4 linked regions of the Homo sapiens genome follow. The protein of the gene in region 3 interacts with the protein of the main gene of each other region in a pairwise test. Each region holds a gene or a part of one and is shown on either strand. Other genes may lie near its edges.

Region 1 (7,025 bases), on a different chromosome or scaffold from region 3:
ATTAGCCGAGCGTAGACACCCACAGCCACCATCACCATGGAAATCACCTGTGGAGACAGGAAAAGAGCCAGACCCTGAGATTCTGGAAACCAGAGAGCCCTGAATGCCATGAGAAACCTAGGAGAGCAGGAGAAGGACTGCTTTCCTGGGACCCAAAGGTGAGCATCTTTCACCTCCCCAGTGATTCTGCTGATAGAATCTGTCAGGGCTTTACCTCCATGAGACACTTTTACCCACATCATATTTTTCATTATTCATTCAGTGCTCGTAACACAATTAGGTTGTGAGGCAGACATTATGCCTATTTTACGGATGAGGAAATTAAGGCAATCCAAGGTTAATACTGAAGAGTGATTAAGAATATGGGCTTCAGGCTGGGCATTTTGGGAGGCCAAGGCAGGAGAATCAACTTGAGGTCAGGAGTTTGAGACCAGCCTGGGTAACATAGTGAGAGCTTGTCTCTAGACACACACACAAAATAATAATTAGCTGGGTGCAGTGGTGTGCACCTGTAGTCCCAGCTACTCAGCAGGCTGAGGCAGGAGGATGGTTTGAGCCCAGGAGTGCAAGGCTGCAGTGAGCCATGACTGTGCCATGGCACTGAAGCCTGGGTGCCAGAGTGAGGCCCCGTCTCTAATAAATTGAAGTTAAAATTAAAAAGGACACAGTCTTCAGAGCGAGTCAAACTTGGGTACACATAGGGCAAATTTCTGAGCCTCAGTTTCTGTATCTGAAGATGGGAAGTAAGAACAAACAACTGACAAGATTACTGTAAGAACCAACTAAAATAATGCATGGAAATAATTTAACACAATGCCTGACAATAAATATTATCTATCATTATTAATAGTTAACTTGCCCAGGGTCACACATAAATGGAAAAGTTTTGAATTCGAATCTATCTGCATCAAAGGACAGGTTTTATACCTAAAGCAGGCCTGGGCGGTTGCATACTCCCAGCTCTCTAACCCTCTTAGAGGTCAATATCATGTCAAGTACAAAAAGAAAGTGCACTCCAATGTGAAGGACTGTGTGTGAGTGCATGTATGTAAGCACTGGAACTGCCTTGGCAAAGGAACCTTTATCTTCACAAACTCTGATTCCAGTGTGGAGGAATAGAGAGGAGTTTAGATCTTTCAAATTTCCTGGCTTCTCCCTGAGAGAACAAACCCATCAGAGACTAATAGGAGACCCCAAAGAGGCCTTATCTACCCCCTAGCCCCCAGGCCTCCAGGGGTGCAGGAGAGCCCCAGTGCCTACTTCCCTTGGCCACCCTTTTTTTGTGCCCAGTCTCCAGGCTGGTGCTAAGCAGCAGCTGGCTGTTGCCATGGCAACAGATGGGGCCAAGCTCTGGCAGGAGAGAGTTCTCAGCAGCAGGGTCTTGACCAACTCAGTGGGGAAGGAGATGGCTGGCTAGACACCACTGTCCTGCAAGACGGAAAGCAGCTGGAAAGAGCCACCATGGGGCTTTGGTGGAAGAAGGGAGCTAGGCCCCCAGAACAGGTAATAGGGTCAGATGAGTCCCTCATTTTTCCCTGTAGGCCTCCTTGTTGAAGGTCCTCTGCCATCTGGCAGGGGAGGGCAGGTGCATTCAGCAGTAAATGGCAAACCTTTATCTAAAACCACGTCTTCCAGAACTCTTCTCTGCCTGTATATACAGCCCCCTCTTTTTTGCGGGGTGAGGGAGGAGGGTCTTGTGCTATTGCTTAAGCTGGAGTGCAGTGGCATGATAATAGCTCATTTCAGCCTTGACCTCCTGGGCTCAATTGATCCTCCCACCCTAGCCTCCCAAAGTGCTGGGATTACAGGTGTGAGTCACCACACTCAGCTGGCCCCGGTCTCTTCCCACCTCACATCATTTGACCATGCCTCTAACTCAGGGCCCAAAGTGTTATTTGCTGGCCTTCATACTCTTTGTCCAGGAGGGTGGGAGCTGCTAGCAGAGCTGCAGGTGCCAGCTGGCGCCTTGTCCCACAGCACTGCCAGGCTCACGGAGCATGGGGGAGGCAGGGAAACTACATGACAGAGATGCCAGTCATTCCCCAGGCCTGGTGGCCAGTCCTCCACCAGAGTCAGTGAGCATCTCTGTCTGCCCTTTAAAACCCACTGCAGCCAATTACAGTTCTGAGTGTCATTTTACTGAACTATTGAAAAATGTGTATCTGCTCTTGATTTCTGTTGCTTCCAGGCTCTCATTGTTTTTCATGTCAAATTTTCACCAGGGTGTATAATTTTCCACAAAGATGGTATCTGATTAAATCGTAGCACAGCTAAAACAAGAAAGGCCAAACAAGCACTACTCACAATAGCAAAGGCATGGAATCAACCTAAATGCCCACCAACAGTACGGGAAAAAGAAAATGTGGGGTCAGGCCAAACACGGTGGCTCACGCCTATAATCCCAGCACTTAGGCCAAAGCGGGTGGATCACGAGGTCAGGAGTTTGGGACCAGCCTGGCCAACATGGTGAAACCCCATCTCTACTAAAAATACAAAAATTAGCTGGACATGGTGGCACACACTTGTAGTCCCAGCTACTTGGGAGGCTGAGGCAGGAGAATCGCTTGAACCTGGGAGGCGGAGGTTGCAGTGAGCCGAGATCATGCCACTGCACTCCAGCCTGGGCAACAGAGTGAGACTTCATCTCTAAAAAAAAAGAAAGAAAAAGAAAATGTGGGGCCGGGTGCAGTGGCTCATGCCTGTAATCCCAGCACTTTGGGAGGCTGAGGCAGGTGGATCATGAGGTCAAGAGATTGAGACCATCCTGGCCAACATGGTGAAACCCCATCTCTACTAAAAATACAAAAATTAGCTGGGCATGGTGGCACATGCCTGTAGTCCCAGCTACTTAGGAGGCTGAGGCAGAAGAATCACTTGAACCCGGGAGGCGGAGGTTGCAGTGAGCTGAGAACGTGCCACTGCACTCCAGCCTAGCGACAGAGCAAGACTCTATATCAAAAGAAAAAAAAGAAAAGAAAATGTGGTACATATATACCATGGAATACTACGCAGCCATAAAAACGAATGAAATCATGTCCTTTGCAGCAACATGGATACAGCTGGAGGCCATTATCCTAAGCAGATTAATCCAGGAACAGAAAACCAAACTCCATGTGTTCTCACTTGTAAGTGGGAACTAAACATTGAGTACACATGGCCACATGTACTTTAGAGTGAAGGGTAGGAGGAAGGAGAGGACGGAAAACTACTTATGCTTATTACCTGGGTTATGAAATATCACCCCATGACACATAATTTACCTATATAACAAACCTGCACATGTACCTCTGAACCTAAAATAAAAGTTGAAAAAATGGGCAAAGTAAAGAGATGCCACATATCATAGAGTAAGTTAACTGTATTTATGGGCCTGTAATGACAGCAGTTGCTCTGTCTCTATCTATGGTGGAGAGAATAATGTCCCCTCAAAGATGTCCACGTCTTAATTGCTGGAACCTGTGATTGTGTTACTTTTCATGGCCAAAGGAACTTTGCAAATGTGATTAAGAATTTTGAGCTAGGGAAATTATCCCTGAGGACTCAGTATAATCATAAAAGACCTTCTAAGAAGGAGGCAAGAGGGCCAGAGTCAGAGAAGGAGACGGTGATGGAGGCAGAGGCTGGACTGCTGTGGTGCCACGGATGGAGGAATGAGGGCTGCCTCTAACAGCTGGAGCAGGCAAGGAGGCGAGCTCTTCCTAGCACTTCCCGAAGGAATGCGGGGCTGCTGTATTTTAGCCCAGCGAGATCTGTTTGATTTTAGCCCGGTGAAACCTGTTTTGGCCTTCTGGCCACCAGAAATATAAGAAAATTAATGTGTGTTGTTTTAAGCCACTAAGTTTGCGGTCATTTGTTACAGCAGCAACAGGAAACTAATACACTGTCCAGATCCAATTCATCTGCTGCTATGCAGATGGTACACTGAGGACCCTTAATCCATGCGTGGATATGGTGGAGGGACAAGAGCGTTTATAGCTGAAAGCACATGCTCAACTTTGGCTGCCATTAGAATCGCCTGGGACTTAGGGTTGTTGGGGGAGAGGCTTAAAAAACTGCTAATGCCTAGGCTGCATCCCAAACCAAGTCGATCAGAATCTTTGGCATTGGGACCTAGGCAACAGTATTTCTGAATGTGTTCCAGGTTATTTCAATGTGCAGCCAAGCTTGAGAACCTACAAGCCTAAAGAATAATCAGCCAGGGATCTAGAGCCACAGATACAGGCTACATTAAAATCAAGATTAAGTCTTTAATATTATTATTAATATTTAATATGATCACTAATGATATCTCTCCCCTAAGCTCTCAAATTCTGCATTTCACAGCTTGACCTTGCACACCCCCATTCCTGCCCCCACTTCCCACCCTGGATTCCTCAAAGCTACTGCCATTCCAAAGTTAGTGCTGCTGCTGCTGTTCATAGCATCACGTTTGGAGGTGAACAGAACCTTAGAAATGGGTTTTGGCCACTCACCTCTTTTTATAGATGAGGCCAAAAGAGCGGAAGTAACATTTAACCAAGTGCATATGGGTGCAGTGCACCATCTGGACCAAATCCAACCTCCCAATCTCATTCTGGAACTCTTTCCACTATGCTAGAATTTTCTGTAAAATCCTTATGGCACCTCACAATATCATGAATGACCTCCTTTCACGATGAGGATGGAGATAAAGACATTTCTCTTCTTTGGATAGCTTTTCACATTCCGACTAGAATGAAGCCTGGCTGGAAACTTCTAAGAGCTAGATACAACTTTTAAAATGGCTGAGTCTAGCTTTTAGCAAAATGTATGTTCCTGAAAAGTTGTCAGTCAAATTATATAAAATAATTTGCACACACCAGTACCATTATCCCTATGAAAGGTGAATGATCACCTTGTAATGAAAATAGCCATCCCCTGGGCTCCTTGGAGAAGTGGCTGATTCTAGGATGGGGGCAGGAAAGGCACGAGATGAGCCTAGAGCATCTTGTAGTGCCCCAAAGAAAGGAAATGCTCACGAAGAAACAAAAATGAATTCCCCACATCAGTATCCTCATCAATGTGAGCATCCCAAAGGGACACAGAAGCCAACTGAAAGAGCTCCCAATGGCCAAGGCTAGAACAATTTGAGCACCGAAATAAAGAAATATTGAATTATTACCCAAAATAAAAAATACACATCTGTGGGCCCATGCTGATATAAATAAGTGACTTAATGAATAGCAGAGAAAAGACAAATCTCCTACATAGAAGAATTTCAAATAATTCATGTAGGTACTCCATCCTCAAAGAGGTAGAGCTTAACTCCTTACTCCTTCAGTGCAGACTGTGCATAGTGACTTTCTTCCAAAGAGCACAGTGTGGAACATGGGGAGAAAGGCTAACTCTACAGCGGAGGAACCTGATAAACACTACTTCATCCAGGCGATCGAGGCCAACATCAACAATGATCATGTTGCTGAATCACTTGTATGATATGATATGATGTGATGTGATGAAAATGGCACTTGACTTCTCTGGTCTTCCTCCCAAAAGCCATAACCCCAGTATTACAATGATGAGTAAAACAGCAGGCAAGTTCCAATAAAGGGACATTCTACAAAATACCTGACCAGCACTTCCCAAAACTGTCAAGGTCATTAAAAACAAGGTAAGTCTAGGAAACTGTCACAGCCAAGAGGAACCTAAGGAGACATGACAACTAAATGTAATGTAGGGCAGGACATGGTGGGCCACGCCTGGAATCCCAGAACTTTGGGAGGTCGAGCGGGGAGGATGGTTTGAGCTCAGGAGTTTGAGACCAGCCTAGGCAACGTAGACCTCATCTCTACAAAAAATAAAAATAAAAATAAAAATAATCTGAGTATGGTGGTGCATGCCTGTAGTCCCAGCTACTTGGGAGGCTAAGGTGGGAGGAGGATCGCTTGACCCCAGGAGGTTGAGGCTGCAGTGAGCCATGATTGTGCCACTGCACTCCAGCCTGGGTGACACAGCAAGACCCTGTCTCAAAAAAAAGAAAGAAAAAAGTAATGTAGTATCTTGAATAGGATTCTGGAACAGAAGGATATTAAATAAAAATGAAAAAAAAAACCAATAAAGTGTAGACCATAATGATAATACTATTAATTACAACAAATGTATCATACTAATGTGTTAATAACAGGGAAAACAGAGTATGGGGTATATAGGAACTCTCAATACTATCTTAAAATGTTTTTAATTGATATATGTAAATTGTATGTATTTATGGGATACATATGATATTTTGATACATGTGTACAATGTTTAATGATCAAATCAGGGTATTTAGAACATCCACCACCTTGAACATTTATCATTTGTGTTAGAAGCCTTTTAAATTTATTTTGAAAAATACAATATATTGTTGTTAACTATAGTCACCCTACTGTGCTGTTGAACACTAGAACTTATTCCTTCTATGTGACCATATGTTTGTACCTATGAACCAGCCTCTTTTCATCCTCCTGCCCCTGGATCCCAGCCTCTGGTAACTCATTCTATTCTCTACCTCTATGAGTTTCACTTTTTTAGCCCTCAAATATGAGTGAGAACATGCAATATTTGTCTTTCTGTGCTCAGCTTATTCACTTAACATAATGACCTCCAATTCTGTCTATGTCACGAATGACAGGATTTCATGCTTTTTTATGGCTGAATAATATCCCATTATGTATATGAACCATATTTTCTGTATCCATTCATTTGTAGATGGACACTTAAGGTTATTCCATTTCTTGGCTATTGTGAATAGTGCTGCAGTAACATGGGAGTGCAGATGTCTCTTCAATATATTCATTTCTTTTTCTTTGGATAAACACTCAGTAGTGGGATTGCTGGATTGTCTAGTAGTTCTATTTTTTGTTTTTTGAGAAACGTCCATCTCTGTACTATCTTCTCAATTTTTCTGTAAAATTGTTCTTGAAAAATAGTCTATTACCTCCTCCCACCCCAATTTGTTAGTTTATACTTTTTATTTTATTTTTTGAGACAGAGTTTCGCTCTTGTTGCCCAGGCTGCAGTGCAAT
Region 2 (7,383 bases), on a different chromosome or scaffold from region 3:
CCCTTCATTCTGGAGAAGTTACTACTGTATAATCACAAAATGATTATTCCATTTCTCTGTTTCCTTTTTTTTTTTAGACGGAGTCTTGCTCTGTCACCCAGACTGGAGTGCGGTGGCGTGATCTCGGCTGACTGCAACCTCTGCCTCCCGGGTTCAAGCCATTCTCATGCCTCAGCCTCCTGAGTAGCTGGGATTACAGGCGCCCACCACCATGCCTGGCTAATTTTTGTATTTTTAGTAGATACGGGGTTGTGCCATGTTGGCCAGGCTGGTTTCGAACTCCTGACCTCAGGTGATCCATCCGCCTTGGCCTCCGAAAGTGCTGAGATTACAGAAAGTGCTGAGCCACCACGCCCGGCCTTGTTTCTTGGATTAGTCTGCTATCTGGGAGAATAATATTAATTTATCCGTAAGCTATTAGCTAATAATAAAATACTGAAGCATCTGCATACAATTAAAGAAGTTTATTTCTGAACAATTAGTCTGAATTTTCAGTTGGAATCTATACTTGTTCCCATTTAATGAATTTCATCCTGAATAGTGATCTTTTGCAAGTTACTTTTAACAAAGTATAATCATATTTGACTTGTAATTGAGAACATGAGATTTAGGATTTATCAAGTTTCTCTTTGAAAGAAAATTTCATTTTTCTATTGGATAGTAATCTATTTACAATAACATTAACCAAAATCCCCCCAACCAATGCAAAGCAAACATTGATTGTGGCTTGGTCTGGAAACCTTTCATTACAAATTTAGCTGGGCCATTTAAAAACTCTTATAGGTGCAAGGCACTATGAGAGTTTCTTGGGGGCCACCCCATGACATATCAGAGCATATTAAAATGAACTCATACTGTACATTAAATATAATTTAAATGTAGCTCTGAACATTGAGTTGAATGGCAGGTGACTGGTACCTTTTCTAGGTATTTAAACAATGTTTTCCCAATTTTTCCATTTTCTTCTTTTATTTTGGAGCTAATAATTTTTGTTTTGGGTCCCAAACATTTTCTAGTTTTCTTGAAGAACTTGAGGTGGCAGACACTGAGTCTACAGAACCTAATAGATACAACAGCCTTAGAAATTAGTTCTTGTTTTCTTCTTACTTTTGTAATCAGATAAGCTGTCAACTGAGATCTGACAACTGAACTCCGGTTTTTTAGTTCATGAAAAAGAGCCACATGACTAGTTATTTTTCACTGTGTCAGTTAGCAGGTCTGATCCCTTGAGAAGGAAGAATTGATCTCTTAGGGATATAAAACCCTGCATGCCTTAACATCAATTATAAGTTGCTTCTCAATGTCAACCCGGGCAGCCATTTTTTTTTCCTCAGTAAAAATAGGGAAAACATAAATCAATGTGACAAAATGGTTCCAATTTGATGGCATCTTGGCATTTTGCTGCCTAATCACAACTGAGTGATATAATTCCTAAATGAGAGAATTTTAAGGATTACTTAGGTCTTGTGTATAAAGCTCTGAGTAGAGTTGAGTTATGCTTAGACTTGTGTATAAAGCTCTGAGTAGAGTTGAGTTTGGTCCTAGAGTTTCTCTGCCGTAATACTGCTTGGTTTTGCAAGAATTCTGGTGTGATGATTACAGATCTAGCTTTTTGCTTAGTTAATCAAACCAATATAGTTTCTTTGGCTAAAAGGAATTGATTCATCAAATCTGCAAGCTTTCCCAGCCAAACTCCAGGCTTCAGCTGGATTTCCACTTAACTGTACGGGGTAACAGATCCCAGGCGCCTTTGCTCATATACTTGGAGACCAACTTCGCCAAACTACCCATGCGACTCATGCCTCTGAATGTCCAAAGTCACAGGCCTCGCATTTTCTGTTGATGATAATCTGCTTTGCTAAAAGAAACTCCTGAGTGTAAGGCACAGGTTTTACTTAAAAGTCCAGTTGCAAAGCTTGAATTTACAGTTCTAGGGACACCGAATGCCTGACAATAAACTGGTCTCTAAAGTTATACCATGAGAATGAGTCTGAATTCACCAAGTGGAAAGAATAGGAATGCTGCCCTTAGACTTTAGCCTAGGGGCTGAGGGAGGTCTCGCTGGAAGAGAGGTAAAAGAGAAAAAAGAGGCTGGAGGGAATGTGGGTCCAAATCTCACTCCCCATTTTGAGCTCTTTCCACACCTCCAGTGAAACCGTCACAAAGGGGCTGGAAAGAAAACTTGATCCTGGTGCAAGTCTGTTGGGGAGGGAAGACAGGTGGAGTCCGGGAGGAGATGACAAGTGGCCTCCATTTAGCCATTGATTCATTCATTCATTCAACAAACGTTCTAGAACATACTAGGTTCCAGGCTCTGTGTCATGCAACGTTCTAGAACATACTAGGTTCCAGGCTCTGTGTCATGCAGTTGACTTAACTGGCCCCTAAGGATGAGGCTTTCCGTCTTTCTCCGGGACAAGGCCCAGCTGTCTCCCGGGCAGGGGGACAGGGGGTGCGGGTCGGGGAGGAGGGCTCCTCTGCGCCTCCCTGGTAGCCCAGGTAGCCACTCCCAGAGGGGCCACGACCAACCAGGGCCCTCTCCGCCCACGAGGACGCCAAGCAGACCGCGCCGCCCTGAACCCAGCTCTCAGCCCCCACTCTGCAGGACCCCGCAGAAGGGGCGGGCCGGGAGCCGGGAGGCCGGACCCTGCGCCGCTACCCGCCCGGCCCCGCCCCCACCTTCCGCCCCACCCCGCCGGGCTGCAGGGCTCTGCCTGGCCGGCGCCGACCCCGCCTTACCAGGGTTTTGGCTACGTTCCCCCTCTGGGTGATGTTTTTGCTGTGCTTCTCGTTAGCCATCCGGATCCGCTGTTTGGCCACCATGGCTTGTGCGCTCTGAAATGCTCCCACCTGCAAGGATTCCCCCTGCGTTAGCTCCTGCGACAGGGCCGAGCGCGTCCCGCCGAGGCCCCCGCGGCCCACCCGGGCGCTGCAGGTGGCAAGGCGTGGCCCCGAGCCCTGCGCACCCCGCTCCCCGAGCCCCGGCTAGCCGACTCCAGAGAGAGGCCGCAGCCCGGACGGAAGTAATCTCTCATCTCAGGAAACCCTTTCCGACTTCCTCGCCATCCTTCCGGTCCCCGCAGCCACCTACCCCGCGCGGCCACCGAGGCAGGCGCGACCGCACGTCCTCCCGCGCCGAGCGGCCGGAGCGCAGCGCGCAGAGCCGGGGCCCTGCAGTGTCGCGGTCCTGTAGCCGAATGCTGCGGGGCCGAAGGTTCGGGCGACCACGGCGTTTGTGAGCGCGTCGGGGACGGGGACGCGGCCCCTCCTGTGTTTGTCGGCCGGTGACCCACCCCAGCCCCGGGGAAGGGATGAGGGCGGCCGCGCTTCAGGCCGGGCCGCGCGGTCTCCCCTGCACCGCCGCCCCCTGGACGAGGGCTGGACCCAAGGCGGTGGTCAGGGACCTCAGAACACAAGTAGAACCAGTCCAGGCCCGGGCCCGCGCTGCCCGGGTATGGTCCACCAAACGAGCCTTCTCTTTAAGGGTCTCGAGAAGGGCCCCACGCTGGGGGACCCCACTGCAGAACTTTTCGTGAGGGCTGCAAGGAGGGCCGCGTTGTAAAATAAAGAGGAGACACGAAGCGGCATCCCCTGAGGGTTGGGGATCGGGCCGTGAGGATGGAGTTGGGACAGGCCTTTTTGCTTTGGTAGTTGTAGGGGTTGCATTGGAAGATGGGCCAGCGGCAGAGCGGAGCATGCAGGAAAGAGGAAGAGGCCTTGGACCTGCAGCCCAGGTCGGATTTGGTGGTTACTGTCTAAATCTGAAGCTTTGGCCTGCCTTGACTCCCCACCCACCCAGGGCAGCTTGGACCTCTCTCTAGCCACCCTTGTCCCGAGGGGTCTGAGTGTCTCCCAGACTAAACTGGGCATTTTCTGCAGTGGAAGGATAAAAATGGAAGCGTTTACGCGCCTCCCAGACACTGGTATTAGGGCTCAAGAGCTCTACAGATTGCCTGGGGAGGTAGGGGTGGAAGGGGTTCAGTTCCTCACTTGGAGTTAGCTCTTAGAAGCTCAGAAGAGTGGAGGCGAAGAGGGGACATTCAGCCTGGGAGATCTGGGGCAGCGGGAAGTGGGGATACCGGGTCGGGGTGAAGGCAAGCAGCAGCACCCCCAGCATGGGGAAGAAGGCCTGAGGCTGTCTCTGGCCACTGCATCTCTAGGCCTTCTCTTGGAGCGGGAGGTGGCTGGGTTTCCAGGGAATTTTGTGTGAGTAAAATTTTCCCATGTCATTGGAGAGTTAGGAAGAGCTCCTCTTTTGGGGCCTTTTTCCAAGCGGGTCCCCCTCACCCCGCTACAGGCTTCTTGTCACTCAGGCTTCAATAAAGGCCATTCTGGGGGCTGCTTGCTGTAACCTAGAAGACAGAATTGCCTAGGATCATTAGTAGAGTCATTTTTTTTTTTTCCTACTCTACAGGCCAATTAATTTGAAACAAGCTTCTATGGTCTTTTAACTGTTAGCATCACCACTGTTGTAACAGGACCATAAACCCAGTCTGCCCCACTCTAGTCCCATGTTTTTAATAACTGTTGGCTCTTTTTTAGGGGTTTGGGTGGGGGGATTCCTACCTCAGTGATCCCTGCTGAGCCTGGCTGTTGTCTGTGGTCCAGAAGGTTCCTTTACCTGACTCACTCCTCTCAGATCATGTCCAAATACCAGGAGACTGACCCAGGTCCTCACCAGGTGAGTAGAGGTCTGGCTCTGAGCGACATTAAGGAAAAGACACAGACAGAGACTGTTTTCTCTTTGGGTCTTCACATTCAGTGAGTACAGTTCAGAAGTGTTCTTAACTGAGAGAAGCCCCTTTTGGGGAAAATTTTTCTTTACTGTTGACTCCTTTTTCCTGCTATGCTTCACTTTTCCGGCATTTTAAATTAGTTTGTTTTAATTATGAGTAGACTACATCTACACAGTAAATAGTCAAACAGAAATAGGATAGAAAATGAAAAGTAAAGGTCTCTCTTTCCTTGCCACCCTCCCCAAAAAGTTCCCACGGTTCCTGGGTTGCCCTTCCAGTATATACAAGACTATTTGTATATTCCCTTCTAAAAAAAAACGGAATAGTAGTATGCAAACTGTTCTGCCACGTGCTCTTCTAACTTAATATATCAACATTATCATATCACTTATATATGACCTCTTTCTTGTAGTTGTGTTATGTCTCATAGTATGATTATACAGTAATATATTGAACTGATGTAACCATGGATGATTATTTCCAGTTTTTCTTTTTTTGTGGTTGCCAACAATGCTTCAGTGAATATCCCTGTACATAGATCAGTGTGTACTTGTGCAGGTATATCTGCGTGTGATATTGTGAAATATATATTTGATTGTAGTCCCTGTTTCCTGACCTAAAACTCTTAAATTCCTTGGACTCTCCAGAGTGATGAAAATATCTTACCTTTTGTATGCTAATGAGATGGTTGGTGACTTGGAGACCCTAGATAGCTTCAGGATGGGGACTGGTCACCAGAAAGATCAAGGCAGGATTAGAGGGTTGGGACTTTTAGTCCCACCCTGTCCCCCCAGACCTCCACAGAGAGGAGAGGGGCTGAAAGTTAAGTTGATCACCAGTGACCAATGATGTAATCAATCAGACATATGCAATGAAGCCTGTATAAAAGCCCAAAGGATAGGGTTTGTTGAGTTCTGGAGAGCAGAACATCAGGTTCCTAGAGGGTGGCGTGCTCAGAGAGGATATGGAAGCGCCACAGCCCTTCCCACATTTCTTGCCCTGTGCATCTCTTCCATCTCACTGTTCATCTATATGCTTTGTAATATCCTTCCTCATAAATGAGCAAACAGAAGTAAAGTGTTTCACTGAGTTCTGTGATCCACTCTAGCAGATTAGTCCAAACAAGGAGTGGGTTGGGGGAACTCCAGTTTATAGCTGGGCAGGCAGAGGTACAGGAGACAACCTACTACCTGGGATTGGCATCTGAAATGGGGGGCGGTCTCATAGGATCAAACCCTGAGCCCCTGCTATTTCCAGGTACATAGTGCCAGAATTGAATTGAATTAAAGGACACCCAGCCGGTGTCTGTTGCAGAATTGCTTGGTATGAGGGGAAACATCCCCCACACATCTAGTGTTAAAAGTGTGCTGGCTGTGTGAGAGTGGGAGACAACACTTTGGTTTCTCCTATATCACAACACTGGAATTAGATTCCTGGAAGTGAAATTGCTGCAACTTTTTATGTCCTTGGTTGGATGAAGAAACCTCGTGCTGTGACCTCCACTTTACCTGCTCACACCCCTGCTTTTGTCCTCTGCAGTCAGGCCAGCTCCTCTGCAGGTCTCAGTCCTGTTTATTGCCTTGAGGATCACCATCATGGACCAAGCAGTTTCCCAGCATGGATCCTGGCCCTTCTTATACTCAGCCTCCAGACCCTTATGTGGGGAGCTGGGGCTAAAGTCTATAAGCTGTGTTCCTGGAGTTCCAGAGTCACTACTAGACTACGAAGGAGCAAAGCATGGAGTCGTCTTGCTCTTTCGAGGACTTAGGAGGGGAAAATGGAAACTTGATTAAGGAGAACTTCTCCTGGGTTCATCTATGGTGGCAGCATGGAGTTTTGTAATATACCACTAGCATGCAGTGCTCAACCACAACTTTTAAAATTGTTATGGGCAAAGTGCCAGGAAACTGCTAACTGGTTAAAATTTAATTTTGGCTGGTAAAATTTTCAGCCTTTATTTTTATTTTTGAGACAGAGTCTCACTCTGTCGCCCAGGTAGGGGTGCAGTGGCGCAATCTTGGCTCACTGCAACCTCTGCCTCCCGGGTTCAAGTGATCCTCCTGCCTTAGCCTCCTGAGTAGCTGGGATTACAGGCATGCACCACCACGCCTGGCTTTTTATATTTTTAGCAGAGACGGGGTTTCACCATATTGGCCAGGGTGGTCTTGAATTCCTGTCCTCAAGTGATCTGCCCACCTCAGCCTCCCAAAATGCAGGGATTACAGGTGTGAGCCACCATGCCCAGCCAATTTTCAGCCTTTAGAGCAAGAAATCCTAACAAGCCTATGCCCATTAATCATAAATCTGCCCCACTTAGGGCACTGGATGTGTGGCTGTACAGACTGAGTTTTACCCATCTTTATAAATGATGCTACACTACTAAACTGTGATGCATTGGACATCTCTCATTTTTCTGTGGCTGACCAGCATGCAAACATTCTTTATATTTGGGGCACTCCATCACTGTGAGAGTCTTAGGACCTTCTTTCCCACCGTGGAGCATAAGGGGGCCACATACTTGGTCTCCCAACCCCTCACAGCTAGGGTGGCGTGTGATCTGGCCAATGAGATTCTCCTTTTGGGAACTGTGAATCTTGATCAAGTGGTGCAAAGACAGAGACACGTTAAAATTCATCTTGGTGGTCGA
Region 3 (7,248 bases):
GAGACAGGGTCTCACTCTGTCACCTAGGCTGCACAGTGGTGCAATCACAGCTCATTGCAGTCTTGACTTCCCAGGCTCAGGTGATTCTCCCACGTCAACCTCCCAAGTAGCTGGGACCACAGGTGCATGCCACCACACCTGGCTAATTTTTTTTTTTTTTGTATTCTTTGTAGAGACGGGGTTTCACTATGTTGCCCAGGCTGGTCTCAAACTCCTAGGCTCAAGTGATCCACCTGCCTCGGCCTCCCAAGACATTGGGATTACAGGCATGAGCCACTGCACCTGCCCAATTTATTCATTTTTTTAGCAACAAGGTCTTACTCTGTCACCCAGGGTGGAGTGCAGAGGCATGATCATGGCTCACTGCAGGCTCAACCTCCCAGACTCAAGTGATCGTCCCATCTCAGCCTCCTGAGCAGCTGGGACTACAGGCACGTGCCAACACACTTGGCTAATTTTTGTATTTTTGTAAAGACAGAGTCCTACTATGTTGCCCAGGCTGGTCTTGAATTCCTGGGCTCAAGCCATCCTCAGACCCGGTCTCCTAAAGTGCTGGGATCACAGGTGTGAACCACTGAGGCTAGCCAACTTTATTTTTAGAAACATTACATGTACAGAAAAATTGAAAAGATAATATGGTGAATTCCTATATACCCTACATTCAATTTCCTCAATTATTATCTGACATTAGTATGGTACATTTAGCACCATTAATGAAACAGTATTGAAACATTATTATTAACTAAAGTCTACAGTTTATTCAGATTTCCTTTGAGTTTTTGTTGTTGTTGTTGTTGTTTAGACTGAGTCTTACTCTGTCACCGGGCTGGAGTGCAGTGGCACTGATCTTGGCTCACTGCTGCAACCTCCGCCTCCCAGGTTCAAGTGATTCTCCTGCCTCAGCCTCCTGAGTAGCTGGGTTTACAGGTGCCCGCCATACGCCCAGCTAATTTTTGTATTTTTAGTAGAGACGGGGTTTCACTATGGTGGCCAGGCTGGTCTTGAACTCCTGATCTCGTGATTCGCCCGCCTTGGCCTCCCAAAGTGCTGGGATTACAGGCGTGAGCCACCATGCTCAGCCTCCGTGTTTTTTTTTGTTTTCTTATTTTTTGAGACGGAGTCTTGCTCTGTCGCCCAGGCTGGAGTGCAGTGGAGCGATCTCAGCTCACTGCAAGTTCCGCCTCCCAGGTTCACACCACTCTCCTGCCTCAGCCTCCTGAGTAGCTGGGACTACAGGTACCTGCCACCACGCCCGACTAATTTTTTTTATTTTTAGTAGAGACGGGGTTTCACCATGTTAGCCAGGATGGTCTCCATCTCCTGACCTCATGATCCGCCCGCCTCAGCCTCCCAAAGTGCTGGGATTACAGGCATGAGCCACCGTGCCCAGCCTCGTTTTTTTAAACTAATGTGTTTTTCTGTTCCAGGATCCCATCTAGACCACCACATTATGTTTAGTTCTCAAAAACATAATGGGCTGGGCATGGTGGCTCATGCCTGTAATCCCAGCACTTCGGGAGGCCGAGGCGGGCAAATCACCTGAGGTCGGGAGTTCAAGACCAGCTTGACCAACATGGAGAAACCCCATCTCTACTAAAAATATGAAATTAGCTGGGCGGGGTGGCACACACCTGTAATCCCAGCTACTTGGGAGGCTGAGGCAGGAGAATCGCTTGAACCTGGGAGGGGGAGGTTGCGGTGAGCCAAGTTTGTGCCATTGCACTCCAGCCTGCTCAACAAGAGTGAAACTCTGTCTCAAAAAACAAAAACAAAAAAGCCCATAATGATGTTTGGATGACTTTGACAGCTTTGAGGAGTACTGGTCAGGTATTTTGTAGGATGCCTCTATTGGAATTTGTCTAATGTTTTTCTCAAGATTAGAGTGGTGTTATGGGTTTTGGGAAGGAAAACCACAGAGTTAAAATGCCATTTTCATCTCATGTTATCAAGGGTACATAGTATCAACATGATTGATGCTGACTTCCCTAGGTCAGCTGAGGGAGTGTGTGTGTGAAATACAGGATGACCATATCAGCACTGTTGGCCTAGACTTTTCCTTCTGAGAATGAAATCTCTTCTCTTGCCCATAGCTCAGCCCCATTTTGACTTTTTTTTTTTTTTTTTGAGACAAGAGAGGCTCGCTCTGTCACCCAGGCTGGAGTGAAGTGGCATGATCTCGGCTCACTGCAACCTCTGCCTCCTGGGCTCAAGCAATTCTTCTGTCTCAGACTCCTAAGTAGCTGGGATTACAGGAACCTGCCACCATGCTGGGCTAATTTTTGTATTTTTATTAGAGATAGGGTTTTGCTGTGTTGGCCAGGCTGGTCTCGAACTTCTGGCCTCAAGTGATCCTCCCACCTCAACCTCCCAAAAGTGCTGGGATTACAGGCATGAGCCACCATGCCCAGCCCATTTTGACTTTTTTTTTTTTTCTCTTTTGAGACAGAGTCTTGCTCTGTCACCCAGTCTGGAGTGCAATGGGGCGATCTTGGCTCACTGCAGCCTCCGCCTCCTGGGTTCAAGGGATTCTCCTGCCTCAGCCTCCTGAGTAGCTGGGCTTACAGCCACCTACCACCATGCCTGGCTAATTTTTGTATTTTTAGTAGAGACGGGGTTTTGCCATGTTGGCCAGGCTGGTCTCGAACTCCTGACCTCAGTTGATCCACCCGCCTCGGACTCCCAAAGTGTTAGGATTACAGACCTGAGCCACCATGCCCGGCCCATTTTGACTTTTAAAAAGGTCCTTGTTTTAGACCAGGTGCAGTAGCTTACTCCTGTAATTTCAGTAATTTGGGAGGCCAAGGTGGGATAATCACTTGAGGCCAGGAGTTTGAGGTCAGCCTGGGCAACATAGCAAGATATTGTCTCTACAAAAAGTAATTAAAAAAAATTAAGCCAGACATAGTGGCTCATGCCTGTAGTCCCAGCTACTTGGGAGATTGAAGTGGGAGGATCATTTGATCCTGGGAGTTCGAGGCTGCAGTGAGCTGTGGTTACACCACTGCATTCCAGAAGGGTTACAGAAGGAGACCTTGTCTCAATAACAACAACAACAACAACAACAACAATGAAACAAACAAATAGCTGGGCATGGTGGTGCATCCCTGTAGCCCAACCTATCTAGGAAGCTGAGGTGGGAAGATGGTTTAAGTCCAGGAATTCAAGGTTACACTGAGCTGTGATGGTGCTGTTGCACTCCAGCTTGGGTGTCAGAGAATGACCCTGTCTCTAAAAACATTAAAAAAAAAAATTCTTGTTTTGAAAGCTTGAACCTTCCCCAGGAGATGCCCCCTTCCTTGAATTCCTCAATTCATTTGGCTCTATCATCTGTAGTTTTCCTACCCATCACCATCAGATCCTCTTAAAAAAAAAGTTTCAATTTCTACTAACAGTTTCTGAACACCTGGATCTCTGCTGGGCCCTGTGTTAAATCATTGAATGGGAAGCAGCTAATCCATATAAATAACTCCGGCTTTGGAGTCAGTAGGATTTAGGTTGGGATCACAGACCAGATGAACTATGAAATCTTGGGCAGGTTCCTGTGGCTGTCTTGGCTTTGGCTTCTTAAATGGAGAGAATTATATTTGTCTCACAAGATGATAAGAGGAATAAATGAATCTTTCTTAATCCTAACATTAATTTTACTTCCAAAAATAAAAATCCTATGAATACATTTTTAAAAGCTAATGTTTATGCTTATAAAATATTGACACACACTTTTTTGTGACTTCTATTTTAAATCCTTTAGGACTTTGGAGAACCACACTTTTGTCAGTCGACTTTAAAAATCGTCCTATCAGGGTCCTACTCATAAAGCGATCTCAATTGTAGGCGTCTCATAACAGAAAGGTCGTGATAAAAAGTAACCGAAAGAAAACGGAAGGAACTTCAGACAGCTTCTATGGAAATACCGAGTTTGGTCAAGGAGGCCTCTCCCATTCCGATTTTCTATTGGTTAAACTTACCATCAATCACACCAGTTGTAAATAAACTGAAGACGGAAGCATGTTGTTAGCGGGGTGGGATCTTCCTGTCGCCACTGCTAGGGTGAGAACCCATTTTCCAATAGGCTGAAAGCTGCTTTTCCCGCCCTCTCTCTTCAGTTGCTAAGGGGCGGGACTCATAGGGCCCTTGGAGGGCTGGGTGCTCGAAGCCCTGCCCATCCCATTGGTTGATAGGGGCGGGTTTCGTAGAGGATAGGCTGCTGTCGTTGCCCGTTCGGAGTTAGTTGCTGGGGTAAGGCACGTGAGGAGGAGGTGGCTTGAGGCAACCATGGCGGGAGGAATGAAAGTGGCGGTCTCGCCGGCAGTTGGTCCCGGGCCCTGGGGCTCGGGAGTCGGGGGCGGTGGGACAGTGCGGCTACTCTTGATCCTCTCCGGCTGCTTGGTCTACGGCACAGGTACCGCCCGGGCAGCAGCTGCCAAGGGGGCAGGTGCCGAGGGGGTTATTTTTGGAAAAGGGATTGTCCCGAGGGCGCGGGCCGTTACTCTGCAGAAGGGCGGTGGCTCTACCGAGGGCCGCCGGCGTAGTGTGGTGGAAGAAACTTGGCAGGCTAGTGGGCGTCGGGACTGAGGGTCTGGGCCCTGAAGCGGGCTGGGGCAGCTTCCAGAGTGGGGAGGAGCCTGAAGCCTTTTGGCGGAGACAGGAAGGGAGGCCTAGACTGGTTGAGAAGCAGTCCTGGGGGCTGTGTCTCGTTGCAGAAGCCTTGAGTTTCTTGGTTAAAAGCGAGAAAACCTGGGGACCATTCTGGGCAGGCAGAGCAGCCGCGGGAAAGGGACCATCTCATTCATTCGGCAAATCAGCAAACACCATCTGAGCGTATGCTCTGTCAGGACGCAGGGCACGGGTGGCAGAACGGATGTAGTTGACAGAAATGCAGTGATCTCTACTATCTTCTGCTCTTGTAAAACCTTGATTCCTTACCGCCCCCGGCCCGCGAGATGGAGTCTAGCTCTGTCACTCAGGCTGGAGTGCAGTGGTGCGATCTCGCTCACTGCAACCTCCGCCTCCTGGGTTCAAGCAATTCTCCTGCTTCAGCCTCCGGAGTAGCTGGGATTACAGGCACCCGCCACCGCGCCCGGCTAATTTTTGTATTTTTAGTAGAAATGGGGTTTCACTATGTTGGCCAGGGTGGTCTCGAACTCCTGACCTCGTGATCCATCCGCCTTGGCCCTCCCAAAGTGCTGGGATTACAGGTGTGAGCCACCGTGACCGGCCAAATAATGCATGTTTATTTTAGATGATTTGGCAAGGTACAATTAAGTATAAAGAAGCAGGCAGAAACCACACTGTTAATCCATTCAGAAGCAATCTATTTTAGCACACTTTCTTCTGATCTTTTTCCACATATTTTTAATTTTTTATGAATTGATAATTTGTATCCAGTTAGTACTCTAGTTCTCTTCCCTGGAGGCTGCCAGTCGTTACCAGAGATAGTTTTCTCGTTTGATTTTGTAGTACAATAATTTTCCCAAGTAATTTAAAATTCTTTTTTTGTTTTTTTGTTTGTTTGTTTGTTTGAGATGGAGTTTTGCTCTTGTTGCCCAGGCTGGAGTGCAGTGGTGCAATCTCAGCTCACTGCAACCTCCGCCTCCTGGGTTTAAATGATTCTCCTGCCTCAGCCTCCTGAGTAGCTGGGATTACACTTGCCCGCCACCACGCCCGGCTAATTTTTTTTTTTTTTTTTTAAACAGAGTCTCCCTCTTTCGCGCAGGCTGGAGTGCAGTGGCCAGATCTCGGCTCACTGCAAGCTCCGCCTCCCAGGTTCACGCCATTCTCCTGCCTCAGCCTCCCGAGTAGCTGGGACTACAGGCGCCCACCACCACGCCCGGCTAATTTTTTGTATTTTTAGTAGAGAGGGGGTTTCACCGTGTTAGCCAGGATGGTCTTGATCTCCTGACCTCGTGATCCGCCCGCCTCGGCCTCCCAAAGTGCTGGGATTACAGGCATGAGCCTCCACACCCGGCCTTAAAATTCTTTGTAAATGTTGTCTTACTTGTATTACATTCCAATGTATGTGCAGATGTTCATTTAATTTTTTTTCTCCACCCCCCGCCCGCCCCGCCCCGCAGAATGTAGTCTTGCTGTCTGGCCCAGGCTGGAGTGCAGTGGTGCAATCTCGGTTCCTGTTTCAAGCCATTCTCCCATCTCAGCCTCCCAAGTAGCTGGGACTACAGGCATGTGCCACCACACTCGGCTAATTTTTTTTTTTTTGAGACAGAGTTTCGCCCTCGTTGCCTAGGCTGGAGTGCAATGGCACTATCTAGGCTCACTGCAACCTCAGCCTCCAGAGTTCAAGCACTTCTCCCTCTGCCTCCCGAGTAGCTGGGATTATAGGCGCATGCCACCATGCCTGGCTAACTTTTTGTATTTTTTGTACAGACGGGGTTTCACCAGGCTGGCCAGGCTGGTCTCAAACTCCTGACCTCGTGATCTGCCCACCTCAGCCTCCCAAAGTGCTGGGATTACAGGCGTGAGCCACCACGCCCAGCCACACTCAGCTAATTTTGTATTTTTAGTAGAGATGGGGTTTCACCATGTTGGCTAGGTTGGTCTCGAACTCCTGACCTCAGGTGTTCCGCCCGCCTCAGCCTACCAAAGTACTGGGATTACAGGCGTGAGCCACCATGCCTGGCCTTCATTTATTATTTTTTAGTGACGTGGTTTTGCTGTGACACCCAGGCTAGAGTGCAGTGCACAATCATAGCTCACTGTAACTTCCCACCTCGGTCTCCCCAAGTAGCTGGGACTACAGGCACGTGCCATCTGCCTGGTAAAAATCATTATTAATGTTGTGGATTAAACATTTGGTTGGATATTGGTGGTTTGTACTGTTGGTTGGATATTTGTGGTATTTCTAGTTTTTCATTGTTGTAAGTTTGTGAACATCTTTGTGTATACATTTTTATTTATTTATTTATTTATTTTTTTGAGATGGAGTCTTGCTCTGTTGCCCAGGCTGGAGTGCAGTGGTGCCATCTCGGCCACCTAGGTTCAAGCGATTCTCCTACCTCACCCTCCCGAGTAGCTGGGATTACAGGTGTGTGCCACCATGCCCGGGTAATTTTTTTGTATTTTTAGTAGAGTGGGATTTCGCCATGTTGGCCAGGCTGGTCTCAAACTCCTGACCTCAAGTGATCTGCCCGCCTCAGCCTCCCAAAGTGCTGGGATTACAGGTGTGTGCCACCATGCCCGGGTAATTTTTTTGTATTTTTAGTAGAGTGGGATTTCGCCATGTTGGCCAGGCTG
Region 4 (7,025 bases), on a different chromosome or scaffold from region 3:
CCTGGGAGTCAGGCCATCTGGGTTCAGAATTCTTGCTCTTTCAGTTGCCAACTATGTCACTTTAGACAAGTCATTTTACCTTTCTGTCTCATTTTTTTTCCTTTCTCAAATGACCAGAGTGATAATGCCTATTTCATAGATTTATGAGGATTAAGTAAAATGATAGATGTATTATTACTGTGCATATTGGATTGCCTGGGCACATAGTAAGGGGTTAATACATGTTGGTTGTTATAATAATGATAATTCATATTATTTTGCTTTTTGAGGTTGTACTCACAAAGTCTTGTTGTGTTGCTGCTGTGATACAAGATGCCACTTCAAAGGCATATACTATAAACATCAGAATGAAATACTGGAAGGGAAATAAATGAGATAAAAGAATTACATTTACCCGTCAAAGAGCGACTTGCCCAAATAATTATGTTTTTTCAGCAAATTTATCATATAATCATGTAATCACTCATGTAGTTATTCAACAAACCCTCATTGACCAGTGGCTTGGATTGAGGCTTGGTGCTAGTCAGCTCAATTCTCTCCTTTTCTCCAGAGAACAAATAGCCATTGAATACAGACCTTCCTCAGTCCAGTTTCCTGAGTTTCTATTTTAACTGGGAAAAACAAGTACAAGAGAATGAACTGGTGTGTATGTGTGCACACACACATGTGAGCATTTACATGCTCATTTACATGTGTGCATTTACATGCATGTGCATGCTCAGTGAGTGGCAAGAGAGTCTTAGTGTATCACATACAGTATAGGGCCTCATAAATCCCCTTTAATTTTGGAATTTTGGAGAAATTTTCTTTACAATTTGCTGAAAATTTAGAATCACGGAGTTCAGAAAAAGATGAACTGGATAATGTTGAACATCTAGGGTCCTTCCTAACAAGCATCCAGTCTCATCAGAGGAGAGGCAGGCTTCAAGTGCACAGCATTTGTGGGTGTTCTTTCACACGCACCCACACTCAAAGTACATTGGTTCAGTTGAGTGAAATGGCATTTGCTGTGTGTGGTAGTGGTGGTGTGTGTGCGTGAGCATGGGCACATGGGTGCGTGTGCACATGATACCTCCACATGACAGTGATGCTATTTCTGGCTGGAAAATATCCGAACAGCAAATGACCTCTGAATCTGGGATGGGGACTGTTTGCAAGAGTTCCAGCTTTGCCTTCCCCAGGCTTGCACACACTCTTGGGAGAAGGGGCACTGTGGTCAGTGTCAGCAGGGTAGGCAGGGAAAACTGTCCTCCTCTTTGGGTATGGGAGGCTCTCCGAGCAGGACCCTCTGTTGCCCTCACTACTCAGCCCAGAATAAAGCTCTGGCTACAGTCAACAGCAGGAGCACCTTCAGAGGCCCCAGAACATTTTTTTCCTGTGTTAGCTGCTGCCTTGCTCCTTGCCAAGAGCTTTGCTGGCTCCTGGTAAAGACGCTCCAGAAAGGAGGTATGCAGTGAGGTGTTTCCTCCTTTAGCCCCTTTGCCTCCCCAGCTCAGTTCTCCTGGTTGTCAGGCATGCACATGGCTGGCCCAAAGTGAGGCTGGGATGCAAGTGAATTTGTCTTTAGGAACACCTGTGTCTCCTCTCCCTTTTTCCTGTATTCCTTTCCCCACCCACCAAAAGTGGGTACTTTTGCCCTGGAACTTACGCACACTAAGGAACCAGAGAATGTAAATGTTCTGTAATCCATTGGAACCAGGACAGTGGTTAGTTAAAAGGAAGAGTAAACTAACAAGCACCTTACATTGCTGGACTCATTCTATAAAGGGGGAACTGAGGTCCTGCAGCATTTGAATAAAAGGGTTATTTCAGGGGTGGGGGATTGGAGGCGTGTTCCATAATAGTGTGAAACTGCTGCCCTAAGTATTAGGGCAGACAGTAGGGGTCCACGTCTGAAACAGGTTTCTCAGCTCTGCTGCCTGCAAATTTGCTTTCATCTGCAAAGGCAGGGCATGGTCTTGCTGTCTATGGTTTGGGGCAGAAGCCTCTCCTTGATGTACAGAGTTAAAGCCCCCACAGGCAGGTGTGAGCTGAAGGCTCACTCTACAGTGGTGCTTATCAAGGTTTTCTGGGGTCCCTGAAAAGCAGATTGGATGATAATGTGGGGAGTATAGGCTATGATACAGAATCATCAACCTTGAGCTCAAAAATCTTTGAAAGCTTATACTTTCTTTTAAAAATGTATGCATATTTTATATTTTATATCCTAATATATTAATGCCTAATTAATATCAAAATGTTTTAAACAAGTTATTGCCAAGAGAAAAAAATCTAATGAATGAATTCTCACTGTGTCTCTCCTTTGGCCTATATAGCTCCTAGCTGTACCTACTGGGTGTATGCAGACACCAGCTGTAGAGGCACAATATGGAAAATACTCATTAGGTCACCCCCAGGTGTCTCCCCTTTGGCTTCTCTGTACTGGAGCCTTCTGGGCTTGCAATAGTGGAGGGCATCTTTGCCTCCATGTGGACCATTTCACTGCAGGGAAAGTCTTCCCCTCCTCACCCCTTATCTGGTACTTCCTGCTCCCCCACTGAAAGCCAAAGCATTGCTCAGTGAAGAAGAAAGAATCCATTACAATTGGCTCAGGGAGACAACTCCAGAGAATTTTGAGGTCTTACCGCCAGAAGAATTTTCCTGCTGGACTTCATGATGCCTACAATGCCTAGAACAGACAGGCAGAAGAGGCAGATGCCCACAAATATGCCGATCCAGGCAGCCCCATAGATGTCATCGTTGTCGGTGGCTTCAAGCAGTGGGTAGAGGCTGTGTTGGTCAGATACAAAGAAGATGCACTCCGCAGTCAGGGCAATGCCGCAACACTGGGGGCAAATGAAAGGTGGGCTCCATCAGGAGTGCAGCTTTGGGAAAGGGGGTGGAGGGTGGGGAAGGTAAGAGTGACTGGCTCCCTTTCCTGCACAGGCTTTATGCAACTAATCTAAACTCCCCATTGCCAGGAAATCAAACAACTACTTCCATCCTACTAACTGGTTGCATACATCCCTTCACATGTTATTCTGTCTATTTAGTAACAGACCCACACAATTTCAGACCATCCACAATGTCCTTGGGGCATGAATCACTCAAACAATGCTTTCTGGTATGAGAATGATCTCCCCCTGCCCCCATGTCATGACCCACATTTCTGGGTTGTAATATTTGAGCTGGTCCTGGTCATATTTATCAATGACAGCTGAGAGGAACCTTGCTGCTTATCTTTGCCAACACCCACATTTTATAGATGAGGAATCTCAGCCTTGAAAGGTGATGGCCAGAGTCATATGGGGAGTCAGAGGGAGAGCTGGGCCAAGAGCTCTGGACTCCAAAACAAATGTTCTTCTATGCCACCAGACCCACACAGTATGGCCTCTGTATTATTCTTACACCCTGGTACTGGCCTCTGTATGAGAAGAACAAGATGCAAGCATCTGTCCCAAAAAACCTTAACAGCAGAGTCCCATGGAAATCAAACCAAGGTGACATAGAAAAGAAATAGTGAAGTGTGTTCGTAGTCAGAGTGTTTAGACACTGACTATGGTTGACATGACTCCTTTTAGATACTTATATTTTAAAGTTGGGAGGAAAATATCTACTTTTTCAACCATGATCTTTTGACATACAGTTAAATTCTAGCTAGCATATTTACTAACACATTTCTTAAAATGAAGCAAAAATATAGGAAGCCAGTAATCACAGCATTATTTTCCTTTAAACTCTTACTTTTGATTCATCTAGAATTATGATTACAGGAAGTGCAGAATTTCCTGGAAAATAATCATTACTTACACCAATAATCACATTTCCAAAAATCAGCAGGCCCTGGAAGCAACGAACAGTTGAGTTGTCTTTGGCCATCTTCGGGATTTCCCACAAGCTGAAGGCACTGTTGAAAGCATTACCAAATAACTGCTACAGTTTCTGTAACATGAGTAAACCAAGCCATTGCGTATTGCCTCCTTGTTCCCAAAGCATCCAAACCAAAGCCATATAATCTTTTAGCGATGAAGGACATTTGATTATTGAGCTTGGTAATCACATAACTTTTATAAAGAATGAAAAGAATATAGCCTTCCAGAGCCTGGTCAGTGCCTTTCAGGAGTTCTTTCAGGCAAGGAGTGTGCAGAATGCATCCTTCTGAGTGGTGGACTGAGCCCCGCAAGGTGGAATGCACAAGGGGTAGACCTGAGATGGTGATTGGGTAGGGCCAAACACACTGAGGGTCCCTGGCATAGCCCTCACTGCCCTTGGCCATGACAAATGGAAACCCAAAGGGTAAACTCATGGCCAGAGGTAGTGGTTGGTTCCCATGTGGACTGCAGGGTGCTTTTAAAAACTATCATTTTCTGACTCTTTTATTATCTTCAAAGAAATAGTTGGCAAATAAAAAAGTGCCCCGTTGTATATGAGGGTAAGTGAAAACGGGGACTAGAATTTACTTCCTTCTGCCAGGTGTGTGCCACTCTACCAGGTGCTTTGCATGCACGCATCTAATTCTCATAACCCAGTTCGGTAGCAAAAGAAGAAAGGCGAGGAGGCTCCATTTTGCAGATGAGGAAACTAAAGCTTAAATTTGTAAATTAAGTTCCCTGGGGTCACACAACCAGTAAGTGGCAGAGCTAGGCTAGAGACCTTGGTGTGTGTGACTCCAGAGTCCACGTGCTTCCCCACAGCCCACAGTGACTCCCAGAAACTATGTATAGACTTTGGTGCCATACACAGCTGAACATGGGTCTCTCACCTCCCTGAGGATTTTCTGGAAGGAACACAAAGGTAAGTGTGTGGGTCAATCACTTGGGCTTCTGCACTTGAAGCACCTTGAGAAAAGCCATCTACAGCTCTCAACATTTAATTAATCAATTCATGCATTCCTGCTGTAAATAAAAAATGTATTAAATGGTTCAATATGCATTCTGAGGCATACAAAGATATGTAAGGGAGATTATTGTATTCTAGGATTTTTTGCGTTAGTAGGGAAACTAAGATGCATTCCCACACAATTATACTACATGTAGTGAGATGAAATATTGTGAGAGTCCTGAGGCGGGAAGACGTAAGTCTTGCAGGATGTGTATGGTTTGATATGTAGAGTAGAGGTGGATATGTGTGGGAGTGAGGTGGGGGTGGGTGACATTCCAGGTAAAGAGAAAGGAAAAGTTAGGGAGTAGAGACAGAAGAGCAAGGTGCCCACAAGATAGCAAACCAGTCAATTTGGTCAAAGTCCTAGTTTTGTAGGGTAGCAGTGGGAGGCAAACCTTCTATTTGTCTCAAGCCTTGCTAAATTTTAACCTCATTGTTACACTGTAAGTATTAACAACCTTCCAAGTAAGTTTAGACATCTCTAAATGTTTTCCTTTATCTGTTTACCTGGGTAGCTGTGACAAGTTCAGTTAAAATTTATGAGCACTTTTAGCTCAGAATTTGGCACACAGTGGGTACTCAATTCATGTTTGCTGGAGAAATGGAAGAATCTGGGCCATTGCGTCTCTGTGTAGTTTCTGCTTAGAAATGCCATTCATTTCTTTCTGCTTAGAAATTTCATTCATTCTTTCCAGTTATTGTTGCGTGTTAGACTGCACAAACTCCCCCAAGGGGGAAACTTACTCATGTAGCTGGTTGAGTCACATTGTAAAGTTCATTACTGGTATGTACAGACATTATTCCTGACCAGTTGGGTTAGTATCTAAACTAGAGACAAAAGTAAATAGACTGTGAAACGTAGGAGTTCAGATAACAGAAGCATAGAGAGGAAAGGGCAGAAATCAGTAGAGGCCAAATTCAGCACCGATATCAACTCGTACTGATTATGTACTGTGTGAAATAAGACAATTTCTTCTTTCAAGAAGTTTATTTTTATTATTATTATTATTTTTTGAGACAGAGTCTTGCTCTGTTGCCCAGGCTGCAGTGCAGTGGCACGATCTTGGCTCACTGCAACCTCCGCCTCTCAGGTTCAAGCTATTGTCCTGCCTCAGCCTCCCTAGTAGCTGGGACTACAGGTGCCCACCGCCACACCTGGCTTTTTTTTTTTTTTTTGTATTTTTAGTAGAGATGGGGTTCCACCATATTGGCCAGGCTGGTCTCGAACTCCTGACCTTGTGATCTTCCTGCCTTGGCCTCCTAAAGTGCTGGGATTACAGGCGTGAGCCACTGCGCCTGGCCTCAAGGAGTTTAAAGTGCAATTACAGCGTGGGTTCAAAGGAAAAATGACCGTGCACATCAAGGGGACAAGGAGGGCTGTGGAGAAAGACAGAGGCACCGCTGAGGGGCTTTATTGGTCCAGAAAGGAACTGCAGGGGCCCCGATCAAGGGAGGTGGCCTGGGTGACCCAATTATGCCCCGTGACGTACAGACTTTTCCAGAGATGACTCTGCCACACAGAGTTTAGACAAAGGGGAAAGAGCAAATGAATATTCTATGGGAGAATTGCAGGAGTCACAATTAGGGTGGAAAACGCAGATAAAAGTGGGAGAAAAGAAGGAAGGTAGAAACTTGCTCTGAGCAAAAAGAAAAGCATAAATTGAAGAAACCTAGGCAAGGACATGACAGAAATGCCAGGGAGGCAGCCCAGCTGTGGGTTGGTTATTGGAAGGTGGTGATATGTCAGTGGGCAAGATATTCTGAATTTTCTGGCCACTAAAATGTTCTCCTTTTTCACTATGCATTCTCTTCTTCTCCCTTAGGCCTTTGGTATCAATGGCACATGATAATTTAGCTACTCCTGTCTTCCAAGATAAGGAAATAGTGATGAAAACTGCCATTTATTGGGCACTTACAATGCTCTGGGCACTATGTTAGGCATTTGATATTCATCTTCTCAACAGACCTGAGAGATGGGTTTTTCAGGTCTGCATTTCCTATTGCTGCTGAAACAAATTACCACGAACTTCGTGGCTTAAAATAACAGAAATGTATCTTACAGTTCTGGAGGGCAGAGGTCTAAAATGAGTCTCACCAGGCTAAAATCAGGGCTATGTTGCTTCTGAAGGATCTAGGGGGAGAAGCTGTTGTCTTGCCATTGTTTG

Evidence for each region.
Region 1: the proteins of NEMP1 (region 3) and TSPAN33 interact in binary tests that used the Homo sapiens proteins (3 or more experiments, as listed by UniProt).
Region 2: the proteins of NEMP1 (region 3) and SERP2 interact in binary tests that used the Homo sapiens proteins (3 or more experiments, as listed by UniProt).
Region 4: the proteins of NEMP1 (region 3) and UPK1B interact in binary tests that used the Homo sapiens proteins (3 or more experiments, as listed by UniProt).

Annotation. Positions count from the first base shown.
Region 1 is NC_000007.14:129,154,701-129,161,725, reverse strand, and holds part of TSPAN33 (tetraspanin-33), read right to left. Parts: intron 48-7,025; coding exon 1-47. UniProt on the Homo sapiens protein: Part of TspanC8 subgroup, composed of 6 members that interact with the transmembrane metalloprotease ADAM10.
Region 2 is NC_000013.11:44,369,466-44,376,848, reverse strand, and holds the start of SERP2 (stress-associated endoplasmic reticulum protein 2), read right to left. Parts: upstream 3,026-7,383; 5' UTR 2,824-3,025; coding exon 2,740-2,823; intron 1-2,739. UniProt on the Homo sapiens protein: Interacts with target proteins during their translocation into the lumen of the endoplasmic reticulum. Protects unfolded target proteins against degradation during ER stress. May facilitate glycosylation of target proteins after termination of ER stress.
Region 3 is NC_000012.12:57,075,770-57,083,017, reverse strand, and holds the start of NEMP1 (nuclear envelope integral membrane protein 1 isoform a precursor), read left to right. Parts: upstream 1-4,226; 5' UTR 4,227-4,272; coding exon 4,273-4,399; intron 4,400-7,248. UniProt on the Homo sapiens protein: Together with EMD, contributes to nuclear envelope stiffness in germ cells. Required for female fertility. Essential for normal erythropoiesis. Required for efficient nuclear envelope opening and enucleation during the late stages of erythroblast maturation.
Region 4 is NC_000003.12:119,183,575-119,190,599, reverse strand, and holds part of UPK1B (uroplakin-1b), read right to left. Parts: intron 3,887-7,025; 5' UTR 3,859-3,886; coding exon 3,790-3,858; intron 2,826-3,789; coding exon 2,625-2,825; intron 356-2,624; coding exon 281-355; intron 1-280. UniProt on the Homo sapiens protein: Component of the asymmetric unit membrane (AUM); a highly specialized biomembrane elaborated by terminally differentiated urothelial cells.